7 separate regions of the Homo sapiens genome follow, and regions 1, 2, 3, 4, 5 and 7 are each reported to be linked to region 6. Evidence: microRNA targets listed by miRTarBase, many of them from high-throughput screens and not tested one by one. Region 6 holds a microRNA gene; each other region holds the end of a gene's coding sequence.

Region 1 (4,628 bases), not on the chromosome of region 6:
ATTTCATTTTTTTGATCATGGTAGAGCTATAATTAACAGCTTAAATGAAGGTAAGTTCCCCCACAAAAAGCTCAATGACTTGCATAATGACAAACTCTGAACAAGATGGAATGTTTTCAATTTTAACATAGTTTTATTAATATAGTAAATAAACAAAATTTAGCAAATATCAAATATTTAGTATCAAAGAAAATTTACCATAAAAAGAATACTTCTGAAATAGCAATGCATATTTTCGTTATACGCACCTTTAAGAAAGCAGTGATCTCAGAATGTCTACAAGTATTACTATTATTATTTTAATTTAAGAGTCTTTCAAAGGCCAAATTGTTGCGGTTTGTGGGGTTCTTTTTTCAGTCTCTAGTTTGAGGAATTTTCTGGAGTTATATTTTTCTTTTTTTTTTTTTCAATCTTGCCCTTAAATGCAATATATTTGTTTTCTTGATGAAAAGAATGCAATCTTAGTCCTTTGGAATTTTTTTTCTTTTTTAACCTGGAGAAGACTGTTCAATGCAGCTATCTTTCAGGTCACCTTTCCTAGCTTAGTAATGCCTCAAAAACCAAGGAGCATATGTCCATATCCTGATTTCTTACAGGTTTCACAGTTACCTGCTAGTGGAAGTGCTACAGAAGTCACGTTGTTAGTAAGATATCCAATAACCAAAGAGGCTTTTGTAATAGCCTTATTTTTACCCTTCACAATATTTATTGACATAAAAATCTGTAATCATACATTTGAGTACTATTTGCATAAGGAGGTTAACCTTTTAGTAATAATCACAAAGAGGTTAGTGTTTGTTATTCATTGACATAAGATGGTATTTCCAGCTGCACCTTCTGTTGGGTATCTCATAATTGGCATGAGCAGGAGTCCTCCAAAAAAGTGTTAAAGTTTCATAGTTTCACAAGATACAGAGAGCTTATCACAAGTTGTACATTTTCAATTAGTTTCTAAGGAAGATAGCATCATTAGTTTGTTAGTACTATTATGGTGCATGGTGTCTGTAGACATAATAATAAAGATAAAGATAATAATGTGTTATTGAACTTGCCTTCTACAGGGAGTAAAAAATCATTCTACAAATCAAAGTCAAAGGAGGCTGAGGAAAGCATTACAAAAACGAAAAAGGAGCTGGGCCCCCAGGTCTGCTAATTTAGGCCAATCTTTTTTTTTTTTTTGAGTCGGAGTCTTGCTCTGTCGCCCAGGCTGGAGTGCAATGGCGTGATCTCAGCTCACTGTAACCTCCGCCTCCTGGGTTCAAGCAATTCTCCTGCCTCAGCCTCCCAACTAGCTGGGATTACAGGCGCCCGCCACCATGCCGGGCTAATTTTTGTATTTTTAGTAGAGATAGGGTTTCACCATGTTGGCCAGGCTGGTCTCTTGGCCGGGCTTGTCTCGAACTCCTGACCTTGTGATCTGCCGCCTCGGCCTCCCAAAGTGCTAGGATTACAGGCATGAGTCACCGCGCCCAGCAGCCAATCTTCTACTTTAAAAAACAGTACAGGCTAAATTATCTGACTTGTTAGTACTTTACATAGTTATGTTGTTATGACTGTTCCAGAGTTAGTGAGAAATTGACAGTCTCCTAATGTTTTTAAACTATTCATTTTCCAAATGCTCTTTTTTTGTGACAATGACTGCCTATACCATCACTTAAACATTGATAATAATGGTAATAACAACATATGCTTTTAAAAGTTAATTTCCCCTTTAAAATTTGACATTACACTTTATTCTTCATGACAAAGGTATTCGGCAAAAAAGAATGGACCACTGAATTGAAAAAACTCCAAATTTGGTCATAAATGTTATTTGTATGTTTTAACAATTGAATGGACAATTTGTCAGCTTGCTTTTTATTGGTGGCAGAATGACACAGTTTATTTCCTGCACCCAAAGAATGAATCAAACTTTTTATGTTCCAAATTTTTGGTAAGATGATATAATAATCTCACAATTATTGAGAATAATGAAATAAATAATGTGAGGTTTTTTTTTAATTACAGCAGCAGTCATGTCAGTTCAAGTGAATAAAGAAGATTCAAAACCCAGACCAAATATGTTTTACATGCTTCTTTTGTAAACTTGCTAAAAATAATTGCTGTGGAGATGGATAATTCAAGGAATTCAAGGAAACTTTACAATGCCAAATTTCTTTCTCTAAGGAAATGAAATCTAGAATCCATTTAGTAAAATATTAAAAATATTCACTATTGCTGGGCATGGTGACTTACACCTGTAATCCTAGCACTTTGGGAGGCTGAGGCAGGTGGATAACCTGAGGTCAGGAGTTTGAGACCAGCCTGGCCAACATGGCAAAACCCTGTCTCTGCTAATGATACAAAAAAATTAACCGGGTGTGGTGGCACACACCTGTAGTCCCAGCTACTGGGGAAGCTGAGGCAGGAGAATAGCATGAAGCAGAGAGGCAGAAGTTGCAGTGAGCCAAGATCACACCACTGCACTCCAGCCTGGGCAACAGAGTGAGACTCCATCTCAAAAAAAAAAAAAATTCACTATTTATATTTGAATATTTTACTTTTTTTTCCTTATTTTTTCTTTCCCTCACAGATAGTTGAAGAGGTATATTCTTAACTTGGAATAATCAATGTTTTGATAGATCTATGCTTTGCAAGCATGTATAGGAAAAAAGAGAGGGGAAAATGAAAAAACTAAGGTATTATTTTATACTCTGGTATCTGCCAACTTTTAATCTTTGTAATTCAATTCCATTTATAATTCAACTGAAGGTGAATTCTTACATTGAGAAGAAGAAAATGAAATCAGGATAAAAGCAAGAACTTTGTTTTTGCATAAATATGCTAATGAAAAACTGGAGAAAAAAATTCCTGCCACCAATGGAATTACAGTTGGAAAATCCATCTAAGAAAGACAGTTAAACTTCTCACCTTCCAGAAATGAAGGTAAGTGCCTTTACTACTGAAGTACAATAAAATCCTGTTTTCACAATTTGTATTTTCTCCACAATTTTCACTCTTCCTCAGTCCTATTCATCTCTCACTGAGTCCCTCTTACCAAACATTTGAGAATTTCCCACAATTTACCCCCTACTTCTGCAGATACTTTCCATATCTTCTAGTGTTTCTTTCCTTCATCAGCTCCAAAGGTGAGTTAAATCAAGAGCTTGGGTAAAGAAGGCCAGCCTCTGAGAAGTCCAGGTGGAAGCAATGTGTCTTCAGAAGTAAAGTGCTCAAACCCAAGGAGAAAAAAATGGGATGGGAGATCCAGGAGGACTCCAGCATTATTTCAGCCCTGTCAAGTACTGTTACTATCTACTTTAATAGTAAAAGTAAAAGCAGGAGTGGCAGATGCTAGTCAGGCTGAAACAGTCCTGCAGCTTCTTGGAATCTATATACTTGAGAGAAGAGAACCGAACCCCACTCTCTCATGGGCTGCTGTAAACCACCCATACGTTTAGTTTCCTTTGTCAAATCTTGTTTTTTTGTTTTGTTTTGTTTTGTTTTGTTTAGAAACAGGGTCTCACTCTGTCACCAGGCTGGAGTGCAATGGTACAATCATAACTCACTGCAGCCTCCAACTCCTGGACTCAAGGGATCCTCCTGCCTCAGCCTCCAAAATTGCTGGGATTACAGGTGTGAGCCACTGTGCCCAGACAAATCTCACTTTTTAAGATAGGGAGAAAAGCTTTAGGAAGAAGTAAAAACTATTTGTAAAGATTATTCTGGCAGCAGAATCGCTATTTTCTTTCATTTTATTTTTCTCTTATTTGCTACATTTTATTTGAATCCCCAGTAAAAGATGATTTGATTGCATTGAGACAATATATACCTTCCTGTATGTATAGACCTTTTGTATGATTACCTTAAAGAAGGAAATATATGTCTGTGTGTGTGTGTCTATATATATATATAGACATATATGTATACTTTGTTTTTTATCCATTAGTTCATGTAAAACATGAACAAAATATAATGTTCTTTGTAAGCATATGCCAAGAAGGTAGTAAAAACTGTGATTTGTATTCTACACATTCCAAAACACCATATTGCAAATCTTCACAAAACATTCTGGGCTATGTCTATACAACTTAAACAAAGTGAACATACACACTATTTAGTGAATTTGGGTCTAACTATAAAATGGAATTTTCTCTTGCTTCAAAAATGCATACATACAGGTTGGCTGGTCCCAGATTCTTGAACAGCTAACATTCTATTTTGGTTTGGTGTTAGGTTGACTAAAACCCGGAGAGGCAGAGCTTGTTTTCCAGAGAAATCTCAGCACATTCTTGAGGCTGCCTGTTATTTTTATATTAATAATGATGTACGTAGTTGCTTCTAAAATTCTATCCAGCTTTTGAATTCTTAGGTTACTTAGATGATAAAAAGTCCCATGGATGCTATTTTTTGAGTGAAAAAGTAGCACTCCTCTAATCATTCGTTCAGTGACGTTCTCTAAAGGCAAGGCTTTCTGAGGATTTAGGTAGACAGAGGAGTATTCATGGTCAAATACAGGACCTCCTTATGGAAGTTAGCCTGAGCATGTACAAGATGGAACAAATTCAAAAAGCTTCTGTCATCTTCATCACGGTCTCCTATATGCCATACATAGTGGGGAAAAGAAAATGACAGTTAAAATGTTAAGT
Region 2 (4,656 bases), not on the chromosome of region 6:
GCTTGTGGGCAGCCTGGGCGTGCTGCTGCTCGACACCATCGTATCCTTCAGGGCGTGTGGGGCAGGTGGCGGGGTGTGGGCAAGGAAGCTTCTGCCTGCACACAGCGTCAGCACTCATCCGTCTCTTCCTCCCTTCATCCATCCGTCCATCCATCCATCCCTCCCTCCCTCCCTCCCTCCCTCCATCTGTTCACCCAGTCGTGCACACCTCCTGTGTGCCAGGCACCCAGCTGGACCCTGGAGCCGTGAGTGAGCAAGAACAGCCATGAGTGCCCCAGAAGCTTACAGCCCAGCGGGGCGCAGAGAGGACACAACGCTATCATCAAAGAATTACTTCATTGCAGTGGCACCAAGTGCTGCAGAGAAAAACAACAAGAGCGTCTAGCCAGGGACCGTCCTGGTTAGAGGGGCAGCAAAGGCCCCTATAAGTCTCATTGAACCTGTGACTTGACAGAGTAGGAGAAGTCAGGCGAAGGCAGGAGAGGAATGTTCTAGGCTGTGCAGACGAGAGCTGGAGTGTGGAGAGACACATGACTTGGTCAGACAAACCTGGGTTCAAATCCTGGCTCCTCCCCTGCTTCCTAGCTGTGTGACGCAGGGCACACAGTCAACCTCTCTGTGCTGCCGTGTCTTCACCTCAGTTAACAGCCACTGTCTCGTCAGGATGTTGTGTAAGATGAGGTATCTGGAAACACTCCCCACAGGACCCCGTTTTCAGTGAGGGCTCAGAAAGTGTTTGCTGAATGGCTGTAAAGAGCGTTACCTGGGTCTCATTTCGGAGCAAGTAAACATGGCCTTTGTTTTAATATTTGTTAAGTCCCTGCCGGGCGCAGGGAGGGGTGAAAGTTTAGGCTCTTGTGCCCCAAAACGGCCCAGCCACCTGGAAGCCTCCAGGACGCCACAGCTGAGAGCAAGCGAAGATCCTGGGCCAGGGTCAAGGGAGGCTGCCCACGGGAAGGAGAAGTCAGTGCTAGGCTTGGAGACAGATGGAGCTTGGCTAGGGCTTGAGGAGCCGGGCAGAAGTTCTGAGTGGAGGGCACAGCTAAGGTAGCGGCTGGGAGGTTATGGCTGGCCCTTCCCACCTGCAGCGTGGGGGTGGGAGGGAGGGGAGAGGGAGGCAGCTCCCAGGAGTCGAAGGCCCCCAGGGGCAGGTCCAACCCAGTCTCTGCTCAGCTTGGCCTTAACGGCGGCACCCCCAGATCTCCATCCAGTTCCTGGTGTACAGGCGCAGCACCGCCGCCTCGGAGCTTGAGCCCCTCCTCCCCAGCTGACCAGAACCAGGCTGAGCGCAGGAGGACAGGCACCACCGGATGCCACACCAGGCAGGAGGAGGTGTGGACAGTGATGGTACGGCGGCCCTGCATCAGCCTGCGGGTGGCCTCTGGATCCTCCGTGGACCGAACCGTCCCCCCAGGAACACACCTTCAGGTAGACCCCGAAGCCTCAAGGCCGGGGCTGGAGCGGAGACCCCAGGGCCTCTCAGGAGACAGTGAGGCTGCCCCTCCTACCACCTACCTCATTCTGCCTACTCACCCCAGGGGCCACAGCCACAGCCTGCTGGACTCAGGACTGTCCTGTCAACTCCAGACAACTGAATAAACAGGCCGGGTACAGTGGCTCGCACCTGTAATCCTAGCACTTTGGGAGGCCGAAGCGGGTGGACCACTTGACGTCCGTAGTTCGAGACCAGCCTGGCCAACATGGTGAAACCCCATCTCTACTAAAAATACAAAAATTAGCCAGGTGTGGTGGCACACATCTGTAGTCCCAGCTACTTGGGAGGCTGAGGCAGGAGAACTGTTTGAACCTGGGAGACAGAGGTTGCGGTGAACCGAGATCGTGCCACTGTACTCCAGCCTGGGTGACAGAGTGAGACTCCGTCTCAAAAAAATAAAAAAGATAACCGAGGAAACGGTACCTCCCCATGAGACCTGCTTCTGTTGCTCCTTCCCCAAGGTGCTGAGGGATCGGGGCTGCTTTGGGGACCAGCGGTGGATGTGGATGGGGATTCAGGACGAGCTGAGCAGAGGGGACCGCATCTGCCTGCAGCCCTGGCCCAGCCTCCTGGGGCCTCTGGTTTCTTTAGCCTGCTTCTCCGGGCCCTTTCCTGACAGGCCCCACACCTTACTGTGGGGACATAGCAGGGAGAGTGACTCCCCACGGGGAGCCTGCCCCTCGGTGTTCAGGAAGAAGCAGAATGGTTAAGGTTCTGTTGGATCTGGGTTCTCCATCGCAGTTCCTCAGTGCCTAGCTTATCTCATCTGTGAAATGGACAGTACTGTCATTTCCTGTGTCCTTTCAAGGATTACATAAGATGCTGACATTATGGAGTTTAGCCCCAGATCTGGCGCATAGTAAGGGCTCAATAAAGGTTAGTTTTGAGGACTTTTAGTTGGAGAAGAGGAGCAACCAGATCTTGGAGATCAGGGAGAGCCTCCTGGAGGAGGTGATAGGTCAGAAGGATGAGCGGGAGATATCACAGGGAAAGAGGGAGGATTGAAGGCAGGAGGAAGAAGTGGCGGGTACAGGAGCAAGGTGGGAGAGTGGAGAGGAGGGCAGAGCTGAGCTCCGAGTGCTTCCTGGACCCGCAAACTCAGTGTTGTCCAGACCCTGTTTTATTTTTAAAATTTTTTAGCCCAGGCCGGAGTACAGTGGTGCGATCATAGCTCACTGCAGCCTCGAACTCCTAGCTTCCAGGGATCCTCCCACTCAGCCTCCCGAGGAGCTGGGACTACAGATGAGCACCACCATGCCTGGCTCCAGACCCTGTTCTGATTCCACTTTCCTGGGGGTCATGACCCTCAGGTGCCTGGAGCACAGAGACGCCAGCTCCCCACCTTGTTGGCCTGATCTCACCCCACACACCCAACCCTAGCTGTGGAAAACCAGAACCAGGGACTTGGGGTATCTGGTGGGGTAGTCTTGGGGAGAGACGCTGCGTCCCAGAGTGGGCCTTGCCTTTAGGATCTCCCTTCCCAGCCCCGGAGAAGGGAAACGGTGCCATGGCCATTCTGGTGCCGCAGATCCTTTGTGAGCACAGCCCTCCACTCAGCCTTTGCTGTGTCAGACACCGGGGCTGTGGTGAACCAGCTCCAAGGCCCTGCCTTCCAGGAGAGGAGATGGTTACCATGACCAGAAGGTAGAAATGTCAGGAAATGAGCAGATGAGACCAGCCCCAGGAGGGTCAATCAGGGAGGACTTCTCAGAGGAGTGGCCTTTGAGCTGGATCTTGAAGGCAGAGGGGAGGGCAGTTCAGGAAAAGGGAGGGGCAGGTACAGAGGCCTGGAGGTGGGTGTCTCGGGTGCTTCCAAGGTGGGGCTGCTTACAAGGAGCCTTGAAAGCCACACCAATGCCAAGGACAAGGTCCTGGGGCACACCCAGCAGCAGCCCAGCAGCAGGTGATGGGGTTTGGTCGGGTGAAGAGCCTTTTGCTAGAGAGAGGAGGCAAGGCACACCTCTGAGACCCAGGTGGGCAGAGAGGGCCAGTCTCCCCTGCCCTGTCCCCCTAGGGGACACCCACGGAGCCCAGGATGCCATCTGGCATGCAGCTGTTAGTTGCACACTTGCCATGTGCGGGCTGCGCCGCCTGCCATCAGTGCACGAGATCTCCCCGTCTTCACAGCCAGCTCTGAGATGGGGGAGTTTTTATTTTTTTTTGACACAGAGTCTTGCTCTGCCGCCCAAGCTGGAGTGCAATGGTGCGATCTCAGCTCACTGCAACCTCCGCCTCCCGGGTTCGAGCGATTCTCCTGCCTCAACCTCCCAAGTAGCTGGGATTACAGGCGCCTGCCGCCACGCTCAGCTAATTTTTGTATTTTTAGTAGAGACGGGGTTTCACCATGTTGGCCAGGCTGGTCTCGAACTCCTTACCTCAGGTGATCTGCTTGCCTCAGCCTCTCAAAGTGCTGGGATTACAGGTGTGCCACCGCGCCCGGCCAAGATGGGAGTATTTTTATGGCCATTTTACAGATGGGAGAACAGTCTCAGCACAATTGAGCAGCTTGCCCAGCTAGGAGCAGCAGCAACACGAGACCCTCCAGCTTTGGGAGCCACCCCACACCTGGCCAACGCTGGCGGCCCGTGTCCCCTTCCTCCATCCTTGCTGGGGGCCCATGGCTTGTGGCAGTTCAGCTTCACCCTCAGGAGTGGCCCGAACCCTGCTGGACCCAGGCTCCCTTCTCACCATCCTGAATAGCGACTTTGCTGAGCCTCTGGCCCTGCCGAGATTTCAGGATAAGTTACCCCCAGGCCCGAAGCCCCAGCTTGCCCTGGCCTGTGCCTGCCTCAGGTGCCAGCTAGATGTCTCGCTCCACCTGGGTCTGGGACCTGGCTCCACACCAGTTACCTGGGACCAGTAGGTGCCCTTCCAGCCTGAAGATCTGGGGGCACAGTATAGCCACATGAGCCCCAAGTGTGGTCCTGAACTGGGGCCGGGTGGGGAAGAGTGAGATGGGATAACATAGCCCCTGCTTGGAGGCCCTTCTCTGATGGGGTGACATAATCCCTTCCTCCTGGGAAACACCAGCTTTTGGGGTGATAGCACTTTCAGGCAGGAGCTATGGTTCCTTCCTCAGGAGGCCTCCAATCTGATGGGGAAGACATGGCCCCTCCCCCTGGGGAGTGCCCTGTGTGATGGAGGCGATACAGCCCCTACCT
Region 3 (4,656 bases), not on the chromosome of region 6:
TCTCAAAAAACAGAATTAAATGTAAAATGAAATGTGCAAGTCCTTAAAGTTAAAACAAAACCAACTAAAAAACTTGTGCAATCCTACTACAGTTTGGTAACCCAGAATGCCACTGATAAAGTAATACAAAGAAACAAAAAAACTAGATACTTTATTAGTACATTCTTTTAAAAACAATCTTGTTAGCCTGGTGAGGTGGCTCATGCCTGTAATCCCAGCACTTTGGGAGGCCAAGGCAGGCAGATCACCTGAGGTCGGGAGTTCGAGTCAAGCGTGACCAAGATGGAGAAACCCCACCTCTACAAAAAATACAAAATTAGCTGGGCCTCGTGGTTCATGCCTGCAATCCCAGCTACTCAGGAGACTGAGGCGGGAGAATCGCTTGAACCCGGGCGGCAAAGGTTGCGGTGAGCCAAGATCATGCTATTGCACTCCAGTCTGGGCAACAAGAGCGAAACTCCATCTCAAAACAAAAACAAAAACAAAACCAATCTTGTCATTACCTAGGAATAATAAGCATATTTACAGTCACCTATTTTCAGGGATCTTCGGGACCTGTTAAAACACTGACTGCCTTGACATTACATTTCTGCCACAGCTGTGCAAAGCACACCCCTTCAAAGTGTCATTTTCAGTTGCTACTAGACAATGAGAAATTAGTTGTAGAAGTATTTTGTAAATCTGTTTTGAATCAGAATACAGATTCTCTGTAACTAGAAATAGTAAAGGCACATGAGTTATAGCTTAGTCTATAAATTATCTTTATTCTTTGACATCTTACAGATCTCTACACAGACATCTGTGACCCTTCAGACGTTCAGGATGCCCCAGAGAAGGGAACATAGAGCTTCCTGTCTGCATTACATAAACTTTTCCTAATAAATGCATATGGTTAAGTTATAAGGAAGGTATAGTTGTAGACTAAACCAAATATTTTTTGTTTTATTTTTTTTTGAGACAAAGTCTTGCTCTATGGCCCAGGCTAGAACACAGTGGTATGATCTCAGCTCACTACAACCTCCACCTCCTGGATTCAAGTGATTCTCCTGCCTCAGCCTCCTCAGCAGCTGGGATTACAGGCATGTACCACCACCTGCTGCCAATTTTTTGTATTTTTAGTAGAGACGGGGTTTCACCATGTTGGCAAGACTGGTCTTGAACTCCTGACCTCAAGTGATCTGCCCACCTCAGTCTCCCAAAGTGCTAGGATTACAGGCATAAGCCACGGTGCCCGGCCTAAACCAAATAATTTGGATATGAGTGCTACCTAATTCATTAATGCAATTAAAAGTTTTCTATCTAAATAAGTTGATGATGCTTATAGTAATATACTGAAGGACCTTAGCAAAGAAATGGGAAATCGGCAGAGTGCGGTGGCTCACACCTATAGTCCCAGCACTTTGGGAGGCCAAGGTGGGCAGATCACAAGGTCAGGAGTTCAACACCAGCCTGGCCAACATGGTGAAACTCCGTCTCTACTAAAGATACAAAAAATTAGCCAGGCATGGTGGCTCACGTCTGTAATCCCAGTTACTCGGGAGGCTGAGGCGGGAGAATCGTTTGAACCAGGGAGGCAGAGGTTGCAGTGAGCTGAGATCACACCATTGCACTCCAGCCTGAGTGACAGGGCAAGACTCCATCTAAAAAAAAAAAAAAGAAACGGGAAATCAAATCCTTAAGTCAACTAGTTAAATTTTACTGTATGCAGCCGGGCACGCTGGCCCATGCCTGTAATCCCAGCACTTCAGGAGGCCAAGGCAGGTGGATCACCTGAGGTCAGGAGTTCGAGACCAGCCTGGCCAACATGGTGAAACCCCATACAGAAAAATTAGCTAGGCATGGTGGTGGGCGCCTGTAATCCCAGCTACTTGGGAGGCTGAGGCAGGAGAATCGCTTGAATCCGGGAGGCGGAGGTTGCAGTGAGCCGAGATCACGCCTTTGCACTCCAGCCTGGGCAACAAGAGCAAAATTCCATCTCAAAAAAAAATTTTTTTTACTGTATGCAAGACCTTTAATATATATTGCTCCAACTGGCCAGTAGAAATAACTTAAAAGTAACCGCATCATACACCCAGTAAATCTTTCTCTTAGAAATGAACAGAGAACAATTCTTTAGAATGCTTCTCAGGGAGAAAATGAGAAGTTTTGAGAAGCAGTTTTGTTTGGGTCAAGGGGTACTTTCAAATTACACTTATGAGTCAGTATCTATAAAAAGTTTCAGAAGTACCTACAATTTAGCCCTCTACATCCAAGCAGTAGCTTTGCAGTATGCTCTTACTTAGGTTTGCCCAAGTACAAATAAATTTTACAAAGCTTGATAATCTAATAAAATTCCCTCTTCCTAAAGCCAAACAGATAATTTTGGTGACAACAATCTAGCAAAAAAGGAAGAATTTTTTTTTCTTTTTTTTTTTTTTTTTTTGAGACAGGTTCTCATGCTGTCACCCAGGCCGGTGTGCAGTGGCACAATCTTGGCTCACTGCAGCCTTGACCTCCTGGGCTCAAGTGATCCTGCAACCTCAGCCTCCCAAGCAGATGGGACCACAGGTACAAGCCACAACGCCCGGCTAATTTTTATATATTTTTTGGTAGAGACGGAGTCTCATCACGTTGCCCAGGCTAGTCTCGAACTCCTGAGTTCAAGCCATCTTCCCGTCTCACCTCGGCCTCTCAAAGTGCTGGGATTACAGGTGTGAGCCACCATGCCCAGCCTAAAAAAGGGAGAAATTTCTAGGTGCATACTGCCTGCTGGACTGTATAGCCCATTACAACATCTGGTCACTAAGAACCTCCTATTAATTCCTTACTTGCATTCTCAGGATCAAGACAAAAAATATGAGCAAGCAAAAACTTATCATCAAGCAAAAAGGTATCTATCTATTAAAATAGCTAGATATTTCCCAAACACCCCTCCTAGGATATCTGCTGCCAATAAAAAGTTTGGGGCTAGTGAAAACTCTTGGCATTAAATAAAAGTAGGAATCTATTTCATTGGCTTTCTCTGTGGCTCAAACTATGGCCATGGAAAATTATGCTCTGGATATAATTGTGAATATAGAGGTCTTTAAACTGTGTCATTGACACTATTCCTATATCACATAAAGTTTTATGTTACAATTTATACTGCACTGGAGAAGTAGCTAAAGGGACTATTTGCCAGGAAGCTTCTAGTAAATAATTTCTACAAATTTGTAAAATAGGAGTTGTCTACACTTAAACTGGAGAATTCTACAGCATAAATGGCATTTCTATTATTAGTAAACCTGGCAAATCTGTGTGAGCTCTTTATTAATTGGGATATATTCCATATCCATTCTCACTCATATTTTTAGAAAAATCATTCTTGAGTTTATTTTTTTTCTTTAAGAGACAGGATCTCATTCTGTTGCCCAGAGTGGAGTGCAGTGGCATGATCGTAGCTTACTACAACCTCAAATTCCTGGGCTCAAGTGATCCTTCTGCCTCAGCCTTCCAAAGTGCTGGGATTATAGGCATGAGGCCACTGCGCCCAGCCTCGTTAGTCATTTATCTACCAAATACATGGAAAACTCACAGAATCAGAGGGTCTTATCACCAAATCTATGTTTGCTTTGCAAAAGGTCAGGTCCTGCATTTTCAAAATGTTCCTTGTGCTCTGTTATGCTTTATATTTCATAGCACAGCAACGCCCCCTTCACAACGACTGGTGATCATGTTACCAATTTCTGTCCATGTATCTGAATGAGGGTTATAAACTTCAACTGAGTCCAAGGTACCTGGAGCCAAAAAATCATGGCTGGAAGATCGACCTCCAGAAACATACAGAAGACCATTGACTGCCACAACACACATGCCTGCTCTAGGCACTTTCATTGAGGCAACTTCAACCCACTTTTCCTGGTTAAGAGAGAAAAAAAAAATATGTTAGCAGTGTTATGAAATGATAGTAAAGAAATCCACTGAGAAATTCGATATCCCAGTTCTTTTTACATGTTTAAATGTAAAACTATCTAGTCAGGTAAGCATACAGATTTTTTTTTCTTTTTTTTGCTTTGTTTTTTCCTTGGAGACAGGGTCTCGCTCTGTCACCCAGGCTGGAATGCACAGCAACGATCTCGGCTCAGCGCAGCCTCAACCTCCCAGACTCAAGAGCTCCTCTTGCCTCAGCCTCCTGAGTAGGTAGGACTACAGGTGTACACCACCACACCTAGCTAATTTTTCTATTGTAGAGATGGAATTTCACCATGTTGTCCAGGATGGTCTTAAACTCCTAAACTCAAGTGATTGTCCCACCTCAGCCTCCCACAGTGCTAGGATTACAGGTGTAAGCCACAGCACCCGGCCCAGAATATTTTAAAATAAACTTGAAGTGGGCATGAACAAAGTAAATTTAGAGGAATATAATTTTTTAAAAGGTCTGATTATAAAACATGATCAGGAAATGACCTAGAACTCATACACAGGACAACATTCTAAGAAACAAAGTCTATGGAATACAAGTAGGTAATACACTCAAAAATAAGCAAATAAAAACAAAAGAACCACAAAGCTCCAAGGAGAAAGAAGCTTATAAACCAAAGGATTTTTTAAAAGCCTTTAGTATTTTAATGAGTCTTAAAAATGTCCAAGAGAATGACACAGCATGGAACACCTGACAAATTTATTTGACCATGGAAT
Region 4 (3,872 bases), not on the chromosome of region 6:
TCCTGGGGAAGGCAGGATTTTGAGAAGGGCAATGGAGAGCAAGTTACTAGGGTCAGAATATTGTTTTCAGAGAAGAAAGGCAATCTGCAAGGAGCCTAACTGACCCTGTGTTCTTCCAGGTGGCTGCATTGATGACACCATCCTCAGCAGGCAGGGCTTTATCAACTACTCCAAGCTCCCCAGCCTGCCCCTGGTGCAGGGGGAGCTTGTAGGAGGCCTCACCTGCCTCACAGCCCAGACCCACTCCCTGCTCCAGCACCAGCCCCTCCAGCTGACCACCCTGTTGGACCAGTACATCAGAGAGCAACGCGAGAAGGATTCTGTCATGTCGGCCAATGGGAAGCCAGATCCTGACACTGTTCCGGACTCGTAGCCAGCCTGTTTAGCCAGCCCTGCGCATAAATACACTCTGCGTTATTGGCTGTGCTCTCCTCAATGGGACATGTGGAAGAACTTGGGGTCGGGGAGTGTGTTTGTCACTTGGTTTTCACTAGTAATGATATTGTCAGGTATAGGGCCACTTGGAGATGCAGAGGATTCCATTTCAGATGTCAGTCACCGGCTTCGTCCTTAGTTTTCCCAACTTGGGACGTGATAGGAGCAAAGTCTCTCCATTCTCCAGGTCCAAGGCAGAGATCCTGAAAAGATAGGGCTATTGTCCCCTGCCTCCTTGGTCACTGCCTCTTGCTGCACGGGCTCCTGAGCCCACCCCCTTGGGGCACAACCTGCCACTGCCACAGTAGCTCAACCAAGCAGTTGTGCTGAGAATGGCACCTGGTGAGAGCCTGCTGTGTGCCAGGCTTTGTGCTGAGTGCTGTACATGTATTAGTTCCTTTACTGCTGACCACATTGTACCCATTTCACAGAGAAGGAGCAGAGAAATTAAGTGGCTTGCTCAAGGTCATGCAGTTAGTAAGTGGCAGAACAGGGACTTGAACCAAGCCCTCTGCTCTGAAGACCGCGTCCTGAATTTCTTCACTAGAGCTTCCTCATCAGGTTACCCAGAAGTGGGTCCCATCCACCATCCAGGTGTGCTTGGATGTTAGTTCTCCACCCTCGAGGTGTACGCTGTGAAAAGTTTGGGAGCACTGCTTTATAATAAAATGAAATATATTCTACTTCCTTTATTTTGTGGTTTACACGGTTGTCCTCCCTCTAAACTTACTCTCAGGGGCTTCTCTGTCATCTGACTTTCCTCACTCTTGCTTCCCTTCCTAGGAAAATCCTCTTCCCCTATACCTGTTCCCACAAATGGCATCCCGCGCATGCTTGCCCTATTAAAGGCAGCTGACAGCTGTACCCACTAGCTAACGTGTCTCTGGTGGTTCTGGACAAAAGGCCTGCGGGAAAACTAGGATTCTCTATTAATGGGGAATTCTGAGAGCTCTAGGGTAGGAGGCCTCATGCAAGTCTTCATGAACCAGAAATTCCTAATAAAGGAGACGGGATGCTTAACTCAGAGTCCACCATCATCCTTGACTGGAGCACATTCTGGGTGGATGCAGGGGTGACCCGGGGAAGGTGGCTGTTCAACATTCCTTCTCGGACTTGAAGCAATGCCACCGCTTCCTTAGTCTTGGACAGGCACTGTCTGGCAGGGATGACCTGCAGCAGCTCTTTTGTGGCCTGGGCCAGGACCAGCTTCCCCCAGTGCCTCATCCTGTGCTGTATGCCCAGGGATGTTCAATCACTGGGAAGTGGCTTAAAAGGCCCTTGAGGCTCCTGGATGCCAGAGCTTGTCTGGTCAGTGCTGCCCAGTGCTCCTGTCCCTCCCAGAACCCTGCCAGGTGCTAACAACACCCTCCTCCTGGGGTGGCTGGAGCAGCACTGAGGCTCTGAATAAAGGCAAGACAGTGGGTGTTCCCGAGAGATATGTGAGACCCTGAAACGTAAACCAAGCTCGGTGAGGATGAAGTGGAAGGGATAAGTGGCCCATGTCACTTTTGGGGTCAGAGAAGAAACTTGAATCACATCCTTCACCTGAGGCCCCACCTACTTCTTTCCAGAAAACTTAGCTGCGCTTGAAACTGTAGGTCTATGCCACATTCATTTGAATGAATTTTAGATCTTTGTTAAGAGCCGATTTTTCATTAGAATTGAGCAGCTGGGCACAGTACTCCAGCAGAAGGGTAAAGGGAAGGGAGGGGACCAGCATTGCAGCCCTTTTAACGGCAGCTGTGACTGCCCCAGGCCTGCTCCTGATCAGAGACTGCAGGCTGTGGGGTGTCTTCATACACACAAGCACTTTCAGATCTCCATGGGGCCTGACCTAGTGGGGCATCACCCCAGTGAAGGGCCTCAGTGTGGGGACTGCTGGCTGTCCCTTTCCTGGCTTGACTGCCCCTGCTGACTGTGCTCTTGGCACTCTCTTATGGTCCCAGAGGGGGCATCTGTCCCTCCACCATCAACCTGATACTTTTGCTGGCTCCAAATTTTGCAGTCTATTTTCAGATGTAAAATGAGAGGCGGGGGGCGGGGGTTAATTAGGAATTGGCCTTGGGTACTAACAGGGTCACTGCCATGCTAGTCTGAATAAATCCTTTATCACCACTGGCGTACAGCCAACAGTTCCCCAGTCCTCTGATCTATCTGGAACCATGCCCAGCAGGGACTGTGCCCCCACTCCCAAGCCACATCGATGCTAGGGCAGTCTGCTCAGCCCTGAGTCCTCCGGGGAGCAGGGGGGCAGAGCTGAGCGGCTGCCCGGAGCTTGGCGGGAGGAGGGGACAGGGGAGAGGGAGGTGGGGAGATCCGGCTAGAGGGGAGGCTCTGACATCTCCTTCCTTCCTGGTTCCTGCAGCAGCTGCTGCCACTGCTCAGCGCGGTGAGGAGGGAGCCGGTGACTCGGAGACGGTGACTCAGAGGCAGAGCGGCGCAAGGGCCAAGGAGTACTGGCGTCCATGGACCCTGGGGTAAGGGGGCTGCGTGGCAGCAGCTGACATTCCTGAGAAGAGCTTCCTCCCACCTGAAGCTGGTGGGTCTGCTCCTGAATAGAGGTGGAGAGGGGGCACCCACCTGGCTCACCTAGACCCTTCACCTGCCTACCGATAGAGCCTCCCCCTCTACCCACAAGCAGTGAGGGGCCAGGATCCCCACAGGGCCGGGAGAAGGGCCCAGAGATACCTGAACACCGGAAGAGTTTGAGAACTTTCAATGGCTGAATGCAGGAGTTTCCTCCCAGGTCAGCCTCTTGCAGCAAGGGTCCCTCTGCCCCAACCTCCTGGGCACCCGTTCCTGCCACATCCCTGTCCCCTCTGGGCCTCAGTTCCTCAGGTGCTTGCTAGCTCCATTAGAAGATCTGGGCTGCTTCCCCCACCTCAAACCAGCCTCGCCCCTCCAGTCCCCTCCCCCGTCTCACACATGCAGAGCCTCATGCATTATTGATCTCCCGGTGGAGCCAGGATGGCCAGGGCCAGTGCCAAGGGTGCCTGTGGGCACTGCTGCAGGACCTGTGCAGACCTGGGCATGTCCTGGGCCCCCTCTTCTCTCATGAAGTATCTCCTTTAGCCCAATGTCCTGCCCTCTCTGGGTGGGTGGCACTTCTCAGAGCCCCAAGGACTGTGAGGGTAGACAGGGGATGGTGAGGCTTTAGGGGGTACTGAGGGTCCAAAAAGGGCATCCTAGGGGCATGTTTGGTGGGAGGAGACATGGGAAAATGGGGGCTATCTCAGGCCTCAGTTTCTCCAAGCACTAGATAATATGGAGATTAATTGGTGGGAGGCTGGGGAGTTTTCTGCAAGATCATGGCAGAGAAGTCTCTGAGCTACGGTGGCAGGGTGGAGGGGTCCTGAAGGCAGAGGCAGCTGGATTGAGGAGGTCTCGCTTGTCCAGTCTCTGAACCCCTCTGTCTCTTCTTGGAGCCTCTTCTGTCA
Region 5 (4,558 bases), not on the chromosome of region 6:
TTATGACTTTGGTGGAGGCCAAAACCCAGTTGGGTTCATGCCTTTGAGTCTCAGGTAGTGGTGCTCCTGAGGTGGAGAGCGGGCCATGGCAGCAATTCCAACCCCACGTAGTTCTCAGCTGAATCTGGGGCCAGGCTGGGGAGGTGCTGACTTTAGATTGTGTTGTTTTGCACAGGGGGAGCAGTATGTGCACTGAGGGTCAGAGACCATAGATGGGGCTCTCACAGGAGCTGAGGTTGCCATGGAGTCCTGGAAGATGCCACTCACTTCTCCGCTGGCCCAGGGTCTCTGTAAGAAGGTAGCCCTCCTGAGCCAGGGGTCTCCTCCACTGGAGACTGCAATGCTGGGGAGCAGAGGGGTGACCCAGAGTCTCCTCTAGGCTGAAGGGGAGAAAAGAGTGGGAGAGTAGGAAAGAAGGGAGGAGGTCAGGAGGCGGGAGAAGGGGGAAGCAGGATTCAGCCCAAAAGCCACCCAATCAAAGGCCTTCTGCGATGTGATGGTTAATTTTGTGTCAACCTGACTGGGCCATGGGGTGCCCAGATATTTGGTTGAACTATTTCCAGGTGTGTCTGTGTGTTTTTGGATGGGATTAACATTGGAACAGGTGGACTGAGTAAAGCAGATGGCCCTCCCCAGTGTGTCGGGCCTCATCTAATCCAGTAAGGGCCTGAATACAACAAAAAGGTGGAGGAAGGAAGAATCCACTGTTTTTCTGCCTGACTGCTGAGCTGAGTCTTCTCCTGCCCTTGGCCTGGGACTACACCATCAGCTGTCCTGTCTCCAGCTCACCAACTGCAGATCATGGGACTTCTCAGCCTCCATCATCTCCTGAGCCAAATCCTTACGATAAATCTCTTTGTCTGTCTGTCTGCTGTTGGTTCTGTTTTCTCTGGAGAAACCTAACACACCCCACTACCTCCGCTGGAGTGTCTTCTCCCAGTGACTCTCTGTTAAAGGACCTCGCTTATTTCCTTCATGATACTTATCTCTGCCTGCAATGGTAGTTTTGTTTCCCTGTTTGTTTTATGTTCTACCCATAAGAATATAAAGCACAAGACAGCAGGGAACCTGTGTTTCCTATCCAAAGCATAGCCACAGTGCCTGGACCAGTACCTGGCACTCAAGCACTCAATAGCTATTTATGAGGGCAAAGATGGAAGGGAGCAATGGAGGAAAGAAACAGGAATATATGATAGGAAACAATGGAGAAACGATTCTCAAAAATATCTCGAGAGCTGGTGTGAGGCCCTCATCCAAGTCTCAGCCCCCAGCCTCATCCAATGCTGCTAGCACAAGCTATCTTGTATTAACCCACTGGGGTGTAAGACTTGTTTGTTTCATATTGTCTCTGAACCAAAGTGCTGCATTCCACATCCTGGAAAACACTTTTTTTGGTGCCTGTCATAGCCTGTGCACCAAAGCAATGTCACATACACCCTAAGGGCCACTGATGGAAGTTTTTCAGAGCCCAAGTCCCAGTGTTTTTTGTTTTGTTTTTTTGTTTTTTAAGCATTTGGTTGATCCGGTGCAACATGCTGGTTGGAATACTGGCCTCCAGGCAAGTTTACCAAAAGTTCTGGAGATAGAGAACTGTGCTGACATAGAGAGTAGCTGGGAAGGAACTCAGGAAGCGGGTGATGGAGGGGAACAACCTGTCTGTCCTTCAGAAGGAAAAATGATGCTGAGCAGAGAGACCATCACAACTGTACAAAGCAACTAATCCTTCCTCTACAAGTCGCTACCGCTTAGGATAAAGATCAGGGTTTGAGTTATGTCAAGTCAAAGTTTTCCCAACCAGCTTACCAAAATTAACAACAGACACCCTCTGACCAGTTGTTAGCTTCTTCATGGGTCCATTTCGACCACTATAACAGAATACCAGAGATTGAGTGGCTTACAAACAACAGACATTTATTTATTTCTCCCAGTTCTGGAGGCTGGAAGTCTGAGATCTGGGTGCCAGCATGGCTGGGTTCTGGTGAGGGCCTGCTTCTCGGTTCATGGGCAGCTGATTTCTTGCTGCATCCTCAAGCATTGAAGGGGTGAAGGAGCTCTCTGGGGCCACCTTTCATGAGGGCACTAATCCCATCATTTGGGCCCCATCCTCATGATATGATCTAAACCTAATCACCTCCCAAAAGCCCCACCTCCAAATACCATCACATTGGGGATTAGGTTTCAACATATAAAATCTGGGGGAACATAAACATTGAGTCTATTGCACACGAGTTTATTAGTTCCCAGTATAACATCCCAAGGTTGCTGAGGCCTATTATATAAGGATCAAAGTTCTCGTTCTTGTGGTGAATGATCCGAATTTGAATCTCCACTGTTTGAGCTGCTGTTTCTTGGGAGGAAGGCAGATGTTTCATGATCTCCCAGTACAGGTCAGAAAAAGAATGGCGTAAAATCATCTTTGCCATTGAAAGCTGCCAGTCTTCACATTTCCTGGGGGAGGCTTTTAGTCATCAGCTATGAAGCCTGACTCGGTCATCTTCTCCCCCAACACACACCTCGATCTGAGAGGCAGGTTATGCTCCAGGAATAATTCCCTCCATCCTTCCTGGGCTTCTGTGCTCTGCTGATTCTAAACTCTGAGATCAGTGGTCCCAGCAGGTGTACCCAGGGGCCAAGACACGGAACAGGCTCTGTTCAGTTCACAGATGGTGGCCAGTGCTTTTCCATTTTCAGCATTTCCCTCTCGTCTTGGAGAGAGCTTCTGGTTCGGTGCTGGAGAGTAAGAGGCAGGAGGGAGGAGGTGGCTCAGTCATCCTTGTCCTCGTCTTCATCCTCCGCATCTTTGTTGGGTGCGCACCTCTGGAGGCACTGCACCACAGTGGCCAGGAAGAAGCTGGAGATGATGGCCGCAATGGACACGGCCACACCGGAGAAAATGATGATGCAGAGGTCTGTGAGTGACAGGCTGAACCTACACTCGCTGAAGCTGGCCTCCGACAGCTCACGCAGGGATATCCTCCTGCTCTCCATGGGCAGGGAGCACTGGATTTCATCAAGGCCTGAGAAAAGGCAGGCAGAGGAGAGAGAGATTTAGACTGCAGCTCAAGGTTGCCTAAAAGTTGACAAGGCAGGTGCTTACAAAGCCAGCAATGTGCAAGCATCCTCCCAAAAATAAAAGGGGGGAAAAGGCTAATTTAAATGGAATTTAAACTTGAAAAAAAAAAAAAAGCCTTAGAGTGATCACCATGGGAAAAGTTGGAACGTGCTGGTCTTCACTGACCTATTTTCAGGTGTTTGTTTTTTGTTTTTTGTTTTTGAGACGGAGTCTCTGTTGCCTAGGCAACATGGCGTGATCTCGGCTCACTGCAGCCTCTACCTCCCGGGTTCAAGCGATTCTCCTGCCTCAGCCTCCCAAGTAGCTGGGATTACAGGTGTGCACCGCCACACCTGACTAATTTTAGTATTTTTAGTAGAGACAGGGTTTCACCATGTTGGCCAGGCTGATCTTGAACTCCTGACCTCAGGTGATCTGCTCACCTCGGCCTCTGAAAGTGCTGGGATTACAGGCGTGAGCCACTGCACCCAGCCAGGTTTATTACTCTTTTGATTTTGAATTACTCAGAGCGGGGATGGAAGGGCATCATTATCTGTTTCGGGTTTAGGACATCTGTAGACCCTAATCCAGACCCGACTAGTAGCAGGGAGTGGAGGTTGGGGCAGATGCAGTGGGATGGGTCAGTGCCAACTAGCGGACAGACCCTCCACTTGGTAGTGCCACTTTCCAACTTAGATACTATCCTCCTCTTCACTGTCCTCTGAGTGGAAATGAAAAGAGGGTTAGCATGGTCAGGAGTTCGGGACCAGCCTGGCCAACATGGTGAAATCCTGTTTCTACTAAAAATACAAAATACAAAATTAGCCGGGCATGGTGGTGTGTTCCTGTAATTCCAGCTACTCAGGAGGCTGAGGCACAAGAATCACTTGAACCCAGGAGGCAGAGGTTGCAGTGAGCTGAGATCGCCCCACTGCACTCTAGACTGGGCGACAGAGCGAGACTCCATCTCAAAAAAAAAGAATGTATTGAAGATGGATTTCGCCATGTTGCCCAGACTTGAACTTGTACTTCTCCTGGGCCAACAACCGGGTTGGTGATATACAAGGCAACTAAGTCCTCTACTCTCAGAGAGTTTAAATTCTAGTGCGAGAATATAGACATTCATTTATGCCACAGATATTTTTTAGTATTTGCCATGTACAAGGCCCTGGGGATACAGCAGGAAACAAAACAAAGCCTTTGCCTTCATTTAGCTTACATTTTAGACAATAAATGAATAGTTCAAGACATGTAAAATGTTTAGGATGAAACGTCAGGGTAGAAAGATAAAGAAAGTCTGGGACAAAGAATTGTCTTTAACAGGGGTGGTCAGGAGGTATTATTTCAGCTAAGGTCAAAAGGATGAGCTGAAACTAGCCATGAGAAGAACATTCTAGGCAGAGACAAGAAGCTGGGAAAAAGGCCGGGTGTGGTGGCTCATGTCTATAATCCCAACACCTTGGGAGGCCAAGATGAGAGACTTACTTGAGCTCAGGAGTTCGAGAC
Region 6 (4,499 bases):
AGACACTCATTGATGTGGCAGCCACGCTCGTCCGAGCTGTCGCCACAGTCATCCTGGCCGTTGCAGAGCAGTGCCTCAGCCACACAGCGCCCACTGCTGCACAGGAACTGTGACGAGGCATTGCACTTGTGCTCTGCGGAGGGGCGGAGGCGGCAGGTCAGCGGGGTCTCAGGCAGTCTGGGGAGGGGGCAGAGGGGAGCCAGGTCTGGGGCCCACCTTGGCTGGTGCAGTGTGGGTTCTTGGGAGCCTCGTCACTCTGGTCGTGGCAGTCATTCTCGCCATCACACTCCCACTGGCGGGAGCTCAGACAGCGCCCATTGGCACAGCGGAACTCACTGGGGCCGCAGGTCGGGTACTCTGGGGGAGGAATGGACCTGTGAGGCTGATGCCCTGGCCCGGCAGAGGGCAGGGCCTCCTCCCACCACCGCCGAAGGCTCACCACACTCGGGGGACTCATCAGAGCCATCTGCACAGTCACGGTCGTGGTCACACACGAAGTGCTTGGGGATGCACTGGCGGTTCTGGCACATGAACTCACGGTCGTCACAAGTGCTGTTGTACACTGTGGACAGAGGTGGACACAGCCCTTCAGCCCTGCCTGGCCAGCGGCCGACCGTCCCTCACTCTAACCTCCTGTGGTTCTCCTGGTAGAGTGGGCAGGGCACTGGATGAGGAGTCTGGACACCTGGGCTACAGCTATGGCTCCGCCCCCAGTGGACCCCGCTGAGGCATTTCCTCTCCTGCACCCCGGCTTCCCCATCTGCAAAGTGAGACTGTGGCCATTTGCTGTCCACCCGCTCCACGTGGCCCCGCCACTCACAGCAACCAGCTGCGATGCTCTCGTCTGCACCATCAGCACAGTCTTTGTCACCGTCACAGAGCCAGCGCTCGGGGACGCACACGTGGGTGCCAGGGCAGGAGAAGGAGGAGGGGCCGCACGTCTTGCCTTCTGTAGGGGGAGAGAGGGCCACTGAGAGACTTAGGAGCGGGTAGATCAGGTCTAGCAGTGGAGGTGATGGTTCGCCGTCGTCTGCAGGGGTGTCTGTGTGTGGGGTGGAGTTGGGTGGGGTCTGTCCCTCCCTGGGGCACCTCCCCCGGCCCAATCCCAGCTTCCTTACCACAGTGAGCAGCCTCGTCTGAGCCATCCCCACAGTCATCGCTGCCGTCACACAGCCACTGCTTGGAGATGCAGCGATGGTTCTGGCACTCAAACTGGGCCTCTGAGCAGAACTTGTCTGGGGCAGTCAGAAGCCACAGTTAGATGGGGAAGGGTGGGGGTCACCCACCTGGGGAGGCTGATGCCATGGGAAGGACAGGAGAGATGCCCACAGCACCCCTCTGTGGGGGGGCTCAGCAGCAGCTAGAGGCAGAGTCTCTGAGTCTGACCTCAAGAGTTGGGGTGTGGGGCAGGGGGTTGAAGGCTCTGGATGCCCTTTTCCAAGGGGGCATTTGCTGGGGGGGACTAAGAAGTGGGGCCCAGCAGGCTCTTGGAGCACTGAGTGGGTGCAGTGGTCACTCACTGCAGTGGGTCTCGTCCTCGCCATGTTCACAGTCATCCTCTTTGTCACACGTCCAGCTCATGGGGATGCAGCGCCCACTAGGGCAGGCGAAGTAATTCAGAGGGCATCTGGGGCGTTTCACACCTGGGGGGCGAGGCAGGTGTGAGGGCCCTGCTCACCGCAGGCCACCACCCACCACACACCTGCCCCCGCCCACCTGGGCAGTCGCGCTCATCACTGTAGTCCCCACAGTCATTGGCGCCATCACACACCCAGCTGGGTGCGTAGCAGAGTGAGGTCCGCTCGCAGGGCTGGAAGAGCACGCCCTTCACGCCCAGGCGGAAGTAGCTGCTGCAGTCGGTGGCACCTGGTGGGGGCAGGGGTGAGGGTGATACCTGGTTCCCCCTGGATCACCCCCGACTGGGGCAGCTGCCAGCCCTATGGAGCCTTCATGTGTTTCCAAAAGTTGAACGGTGCCCTTCTGGTGGGGCACTGTCTGCACCATCTGCTCACTGCCCCCTCTCGGAACCCCACGAGAGCCCAGGAGCAGGAGCGGGATGGGGACAGGGCCTCAGGGAGATGGAGGCTGTCAGCGGGGATGAGGGAAGGCAGAGAGGAATGTGGGCAGGTGCAGGAGGGCCTGAAGGCGGGAGATGCAGTGAGCGATGGGGAGGAGCCCAGGAGGTGCCAGCAAAGGGCGTCACTCACTGCAGTTCATCTCATCTGAGGCGTCCTCACAATCCACAAACTGGTTGCAGCGGCTGGAGTTCCCGATGCAGGTCCCGTCCCGGCAGCGGAACTCGCCCACACCACAGGCTGTCTCTAGAACAGTGCCCGCCCCGTATCGTCAGGCCAGAGTTTTCTCTGTGGGGGCCAGAAGGACGCAGGACAGAGCTCCTGGCCCACAGCACCTGCCCTGGCCTGTCACAGAGTGCCTTGAACCAGACACCACGGGGCCCAGGGACAAAGCTTGGCCAGGGAGGGGTGGGGCAGGAACTGAGGTACAGATGGGTTATGCCAGTGCGCCTCACTCACTGTTGCAAGGGATCTCGTCAGAGCCATCCCCACAGTCGTCGGCCCCGTTGCACCACAGCATGTTGGACACACAGCGCCCATTGCTGCACTGCCGGAAAGTCTTCTTGCAGCGGCGGGAGTCTGCAAATGGAGGAGTAGGCTGCGTGTCAGCCACAGGCACAGGGAAAGGGCTGCCTCCCTGAGACGTCATGCACGTGTCCAGCTGGCCACCCCCAAACCCAAAGGCCCAGTCCAGGCTAACAGTGGTTCTGCCCTTCATGAGCTCCCAAAACTCATGGTCAGGAAGCTGGGTCCTGATCCTGCTCCATCCTGCAGGGGCCTGGGGGAGGAGGACCTGGGCTCTGGGCCTGGAAGAGGCAGGGGCTGCAGGGGGCTCCTTACTGCAGTAGGATGGCTTCTCATCGGACTTGTCCTTGCAGTGGGGGACGCCGTCGCAGGTCAGGCTGAAGTTGATGCACTCGCCATTGGCACACTCAAACTCATCTTGTGCTCGGCAAGAGGAATTCACCGCTGGGGAGGGAGGTGGAGGGAGCTTTCTGAGCCAGCGCTGTGGGCCCCAGTGCCCACGCCTCCTCCCCCGGGGAGCTGAGGTCATCATCAGCGTCTTCTTGGCAAAAGGCTTTGGGGGGCTGGGCTGGAGCATGTAGGGGAGATGGTCACCATCCCTGGTGTGTGCTTGGGTTCCCCGCCAGCCCCTCCCCCCCGCCTCTCTCACCTCGGCAGGTGAGGTCATCCTGGAGGATTCGGCCCCCTCGGCATGAGCAGTTGACATGGCCCTGGTGAGTGAGCAGACACAGGTCCTGGCAGCCACCGTTGTTGATTCGGCATGGAGAGAGTTCACCTGAGCAGGGACAGGGTGGGCGCAGGGCTGGAGAGTGTTCTCTGCTGTGCATGCACCCAGAGTGCACCCACCCATTCACTGACTTCATGGAGCTCCCAAGCCTCTGCTCAGTCACGGCAGGCACAGCGGCTTGCAGCCAGTGGGGAGGGCATGGGGATGGCTGCTGTGGGAGGGCCAGGTGCATGGGGTTTTCGGCAGGTGTGCCGTTGAGGATGTGTGTGCTTTTAGGCAGGGCACCGTGGGCTTTGAGGAGTGTTTCTGAGAGATTCGAGTCTGAGGGCCCTGAGATCACGGGTGCAGTAGTGAGCCCCAGGGCGCATGGGAGACACCTGGGAAAGCTGCAGGTCTGTGGTGGGGGGCGCTGGGGCATGTACTCGTGCCCACTGAGGGCACGTGCACCCAGGCTCTCGGCTGTCTGTGTGGCTCCAAGTGAGGAGAGTGACCAGGGTGAGGGTAGGGGCACCGAGGGCATGGATGAGCCCTGAGGGGCGGGTGTGACATGAATGTGTGTGTGCAACGTGGAGGAGATGCCAGGCGTGTGCAGAGTCCATCTGTGTGCGTAGATGCCTTGGTGGGAAGGGGTACAGGAGCACTGGGGGTTTTGCGGTTCCAAAGGTGTGTACAGCTGTGTGTGTCTGTGTAATGGAGGCCCAGGGAGAGCAGGACCAGGCAAGTGTGTGTGGGGTGTGGTGTGTGGGGTGTGGGGTGTTTATAGTATGTCTGTGAGATGTGTGTGTGTGTGTGTGGCATGTTTGTGGTACGTGTGGTGTGTGGTGTGTGTGTGTGCTGTGTGGTGTGTGTGTGATGTGTGTTGTGGGTGGTAGGTGTGTGGCATGTGTATGTGTGTCCTATGTGTGGTGTGTATGTGTCATGTGTGGTGTGTGTATGTGGTGTGTGTATGTGGTGTGTGTGTGGTATGTGTAGTGTGTGTGGTGGTGTGTGTATGTGGTATGTGTGGGGTGTGTGTGGTATGTGTGGTGTGTATGTGGTGTGTGGTGTGTGTGTGGTATGTGTGTGGTGTGGTATATGTGGGGTGTGCATGTGATATGTGTGGTGTGTGTATGTGGGGTGTGTATGTGTGTGTATGTGTTGGGGGTGTATGTGTATGTGGTGTGTGGGGGGTG
Region 7 (3,000 bases), not on the chromosome of region 6:
GAAGACAGTGGTATTTAACAAAGAGAGTTTGCAGGTATAAGGATTAAGTTGTTCACATTTTTGCTGGTAAAATGTTTCACCTCAATTCTTAGGCTGGTACCCTAAGTTCCCTACATTTGCTCCTCAAGCCTCAATGCTTTTGGGGAGTTTTTGGCCAACACTAATCCCCATGGTTGTTTTCTTTCCCAGTTGTCACAGATGAGACTTTGAGCTTCATTCAGAAAAGCAGACGCCTCCTGGTTGTTCTAAGCCCCAACTACGTGCTCCAGGGAACCCAAGCCCTCCTGGAGCTCAAGGCTGGCCTAGAAAATATGGCCTCTCGGGGCAACATCAACGTCATTTTAGTACAGTACAAAGCTGTGAAGGAAACGAAGGTGAAAGAGCTGAAGAGGGCTAAGACGGTGCTCACGGTCATTAAATGGAAAGGGGAAAAATCCAAGTATCCACAGGGCAGGTTCTGGAAGCAGCTGCAGGTGGCCATGCCAGTGAAGAAAAGTCCCAGGCGGTCTAGCAGTGATGAGCAGGGCCTCTCGTATTCATCTTTGAAAAATGTATGAAAGGAATAATGAAAAGGGTAAAAAGAACAAGGGGTGCTCCAGGAAGAAAGAGTCCCCCCAGTCTTCATTCGCAGTTTATGGTTTCATAGGCAAAAATAATGGTCTAAGCCTCCCAATAGGGATAAATTTAGGGTGACTGTGTGGCTGACTATTCTGCTTCCTCAGGCAACACTAAAGTTTAGAAAGATATCATCAACGTTCTGTCACCAGTCTCTGATGCCACTATGTTCTTTGCAGGCAAAGACTTGTTCAATGCGAATTTCCCCTTCTACATTGTCTATCCCTGTTTTTATATGTCTCCATTCTTTTTAAAATCTTAACATATGGAGCAGCCTTTCCTATGAATTTAAATATGCCTTTAAAATAAGTCACTGTTGACAGGGTCATGAGTTTCCGAGTATAGTTTTCTTTTTATCTTATTTTTACTCGTCCGTTGAAAAGATAATCAAGGCCTACATTTTAGCTGAGGATAATGAACTTTTTTCCTCATTCGGCTGTATAATACATAACCACAGCAAGACTGACATCCACTTAGGATGATACAAAGCAGTGTAACTGAAAATGTTTCTTTTAATTGATTTAAAGGACTTGTCTTCTATACCACCCTTGTCCTCATCTCAGGTAATTTATGAAATCTATGTAAACTTGAAAAATATTTCTTAATTTTTGTTTTTGCTCCAGTCAATTCCTGATTATCCACAGGTCAACCCACATTTTTTCATTCCTTCTCCCTATCTGCTTATATCGCATTGCTCATTTAGAGTTTGCAGGAGGCTCCATACTAGGTTCAGTCTGAAAGAAATCTCCTAATGGTGCTATAGAGAGGGAGGTAACAGAAAGACTCTTTTAGGGCATTTTTCTGACTCATGAAAAGAGCACAGAAAAGGATGTTTGGCAATTTGTCTTTTAAGTCTTAACCTTGCTAATGTGAATACTGGGAAAGTGATTTTTTCTCACTCGTTTTTGTTGCTCCATTGTAAAGGGCGGAGGTCAGTCTTAGTGGCCTTGAGAGTTGCTTTTGGCATTAATATTCTAAGAGAATTAACTGTATTTCCTGTCACCTATTCACTAGTGCAGGAAATATACTTGCTCCAAATAAGTCAGTATGAGAAGTCACTGTCAATGAAAGTTGTTTTGTTTGTTTTCAGTAATATTTTGCTGTTTTTAAGACTTGGAAAACTAAGTGCAGAGTTTACAGAGTGGTAAATATCTATGTTACATGTAGATTATACATATATATACACACGTGTATATGAGATATATATCTTATATCTCCACAAACACAAATTATATATATACATATCCACACACATACATTACATATATCTGTGTATATAAATCCACATGCACATGAAATATATATATATATATAATTTGTGTGTGTGTATGTGTATGTATATGACTTTAAATAGCTATGGGTACAATATTAAAAACCACTGGAACTCTTGTCCAGTTTTTAAATTATGTTTTTACTGGAATGTTTTTGTGTCAGTGTTTTCTGTACATATTATTTGTTAATTCACAGCTCACAGAGTGATAGTTGTCATAGTTCTTGCCTTCCCTAAGTTTATATAAATAACTTAAGTATTGCTACAGTTTATCTAGGTTGCAGTGGCATCTGCTGTGCACAGAGCTTCCATGGTCACTGCTAAGCAGTAGCCAGCCATCGGGCATTAATTGATTTCCTACTATATTCCCAGCAGACACATTTAGAAACTAAGCTATGTTAACCTCAGTGCTCAACTATTTGAACTGTTGAGTGATAAAGGAAACAAATATAACTGTAAATGAATCTTGGTATCCTGTGAAACAGAATAATTCGTAATTTAAGAAAGCCCTTATCCCGGTAACATGAATGTTGATGAACAAATGTAAAATTATATCCTATATTTAAGTACCCATAATAAATCATTTCCCTCTATAAGTGTTATTGATTATTTTAAATTGAAAAAAGTTTCACTTGGATGAAAAAAGTAGAAAAGTAGGTCATTCTTGGATCTACTTTTTTTTAGCCTTATTAATATTTTTCCCTATTAGAAACCACAATTACTCCCTCTATTAACCCTTCACTTACTAGACCAGAAAAGAACTTATTCCAGATAAGCTTTGAATATCAATTCTTACATAAACTTTAGGCAAACAGGGAATAGTCTAGTCACCAAAGGACCATTCTCTTGCCAATGCTGCATTCCTTTTGCACTTTTGGATTCCATATTTATCCCAAATGCTGTTGGGCACCCCTAGAAATACCTTGATGTTTTTTCTATTTATATGCCTGCCTTTGGTACTTAATTTTACAAATGCTGTAATATAAAGCATATCAAGTTTATGTGATACGTATCATTGCAAGAGAATTTGTTTCAAGATTTTTTTTTAATGTTCCAGAAGATGGCCAATAGAGAACATTCAAGGGAAATGGGGAAACATAATTTAGAGAACAAGA

What was found. Region 6 holds the annotated microRNA hsa-miR-1228-3p (UCACACCUGCCUCGCCCCCC, at 1,646-1,665, opposite strand). A microRNA usually pairs through its seed, bases 2 to 8, with sites in the 3' UTR of a target mRNA and lowers its output. Matches are read on the target gene's strand: a 7mer-m8 pairs with bases 2 to 8, a 7mer-A1 pairs with bases 2 to 7 and ends in A, and an 8mer does both.
Region 1: the mRNA of FBXO47 is a reported target of hsa-miR-1228-3p. The part of its 3' UTR that is shown has no 7-base or 8-base seed match.
Region 2: miRTarBase lists SLC66A1 as a target of hsa-miR-1228-3p. Seed matches in the 3' UTR shown: 7mer-m8 at 1,331-1,337 and 7mer-m8 at 1,742-1,748.
Region 3: the mRNA of IPP is a reported target of hsa-miR-1228-3p. The part of its 3' UTR that is shown has no 7-base or 8-base seed match.
Region 4: the mRNA of MRPL10 is a reported target of hsa-miR-1228-3p. Seed matches in the 3' UTR shown: 7mer-m8 at 1,028-1,034.
Region 5: miRTarBase lists LRRC38 as a target of hsa-miR-1228-3p. Seed matches in the 3' UTR shown: 7mer-m8 at 2,509-2,515.
Region 7: miRTarBase lists IL1RAP as a target of hsa-miR-1228-3p. The part of its 3' UTR that is shown has no 7-base or 8-base seed match.

The regions. Positions count from the first base shown.
Region 1 is chr17:38,932,714-38,937,341 of GRCh38, forward strand. FBXO47 (F-box protein 47) reads right to left here. Exons shown (of 11, transcript NM_001008777.3): 11 at 3,719-4,577. The coding sequence ends at 4,462. Among named protein-coding and RNA genes, the nearest start is that of LASP1NB, 9.4 kb to the left of the region's middle.
Region 2 is chr1:19,327,373-19,332,028 of GRCh38, forward strand. It overlaps SLC66A1 (solute carrier family 66 member 1), which reads left to right. Exons shown (of 8, transcript NM_001040125.2): 7 at 1-40; 8 at 1,200-1,928. The coding sequence ends at 1,271. Among named protein-coding and RNA genes, the nearest start is that of SLC66A1, 17 kb to the left of the region's middle.
Region 3 is chr1:45,696,315-45,700,970 of GRCh38, forward strand. It overlaps IPP (intracisternal A particle-promoted polypeptide), which reads right to left. Exons shown (of 9, transcript NM_005897.3): 9 at 2,397-3,876. The coding sequence ends at 3,652. Among named protein-coding and RNA genes, the nearest start is that of TMEM69, 10 kb to the left of the region's middle.
Region 4 is chr17:47,820,706-47,824,577 of GRCh38, reverse strand. MRPL10 (mitochondrial ribosomal protein L10) reads left to right here. Exons shown (of 5, transcript NM_145255.4): 5 at 120-1,306. The coding sequence ends at 373. OSBPL7 (oxysterol binding protein like 7) reads left to right here and starts at 2,784. Exons shown (of 23, transcript NM_145798.3): 1 at 2,784-2,912. RefSeq lists an enhancer at 2,326-2,495 and a silencer at 2,606-2,821.
Region 5 is chr1:13,473,083-13,477,640 of GRCh38, forward strand. LRRC38 (leucine rich repeat containing 38) reads right to left here. Exons shown (of 2, transcript NM_001010847.2): 2 at 1,891-3,017. The coding sequence ends at 2,764. Among named protein-coding and RNA genes, the nearest start is that of LRRC38, 39 kb to the right of the region's middle.
Region 6 is chr12:57,191,721-57,196,219 of GRCh38, reverse strand. It overlaps MIR1228 (microRNA 1228), which reads right to left and starts at 1,716; the gene lies at 1,644-1,716. It overlaps LRP1 (LDL receptor related protein 1), which reads right to left. Exons shown (of 89, transcript NM_002332.3): 45 at 3,250-3,375; 46 at 2,916-3,044; 47 at 2,535-2,654; 48 at 2,208-2,321; 49 at 1,717-1,866; 50 at 1,521-1,643; 51 at 1,119-1,235; 52 at 821-949; 53 at 440-562; 54 at 217-357; 55 at 1-133. RefSeq lists an enhancer at 3,161-3,660.
Region 7 is chr3:190,648,149-190,651,148 of GRCh38, forward strand. It overlaps IL1RAP (interleukin 1 receptor accessory protein), which reads left to right. Exons shown (of 12, transcript NM_002182.4): 12 at 190-3,000. The coding sequence ends at 557. Among named protein-coding and RNA genes, the nearest start is that of LINC02013, 50 kb to the right of the region's middle.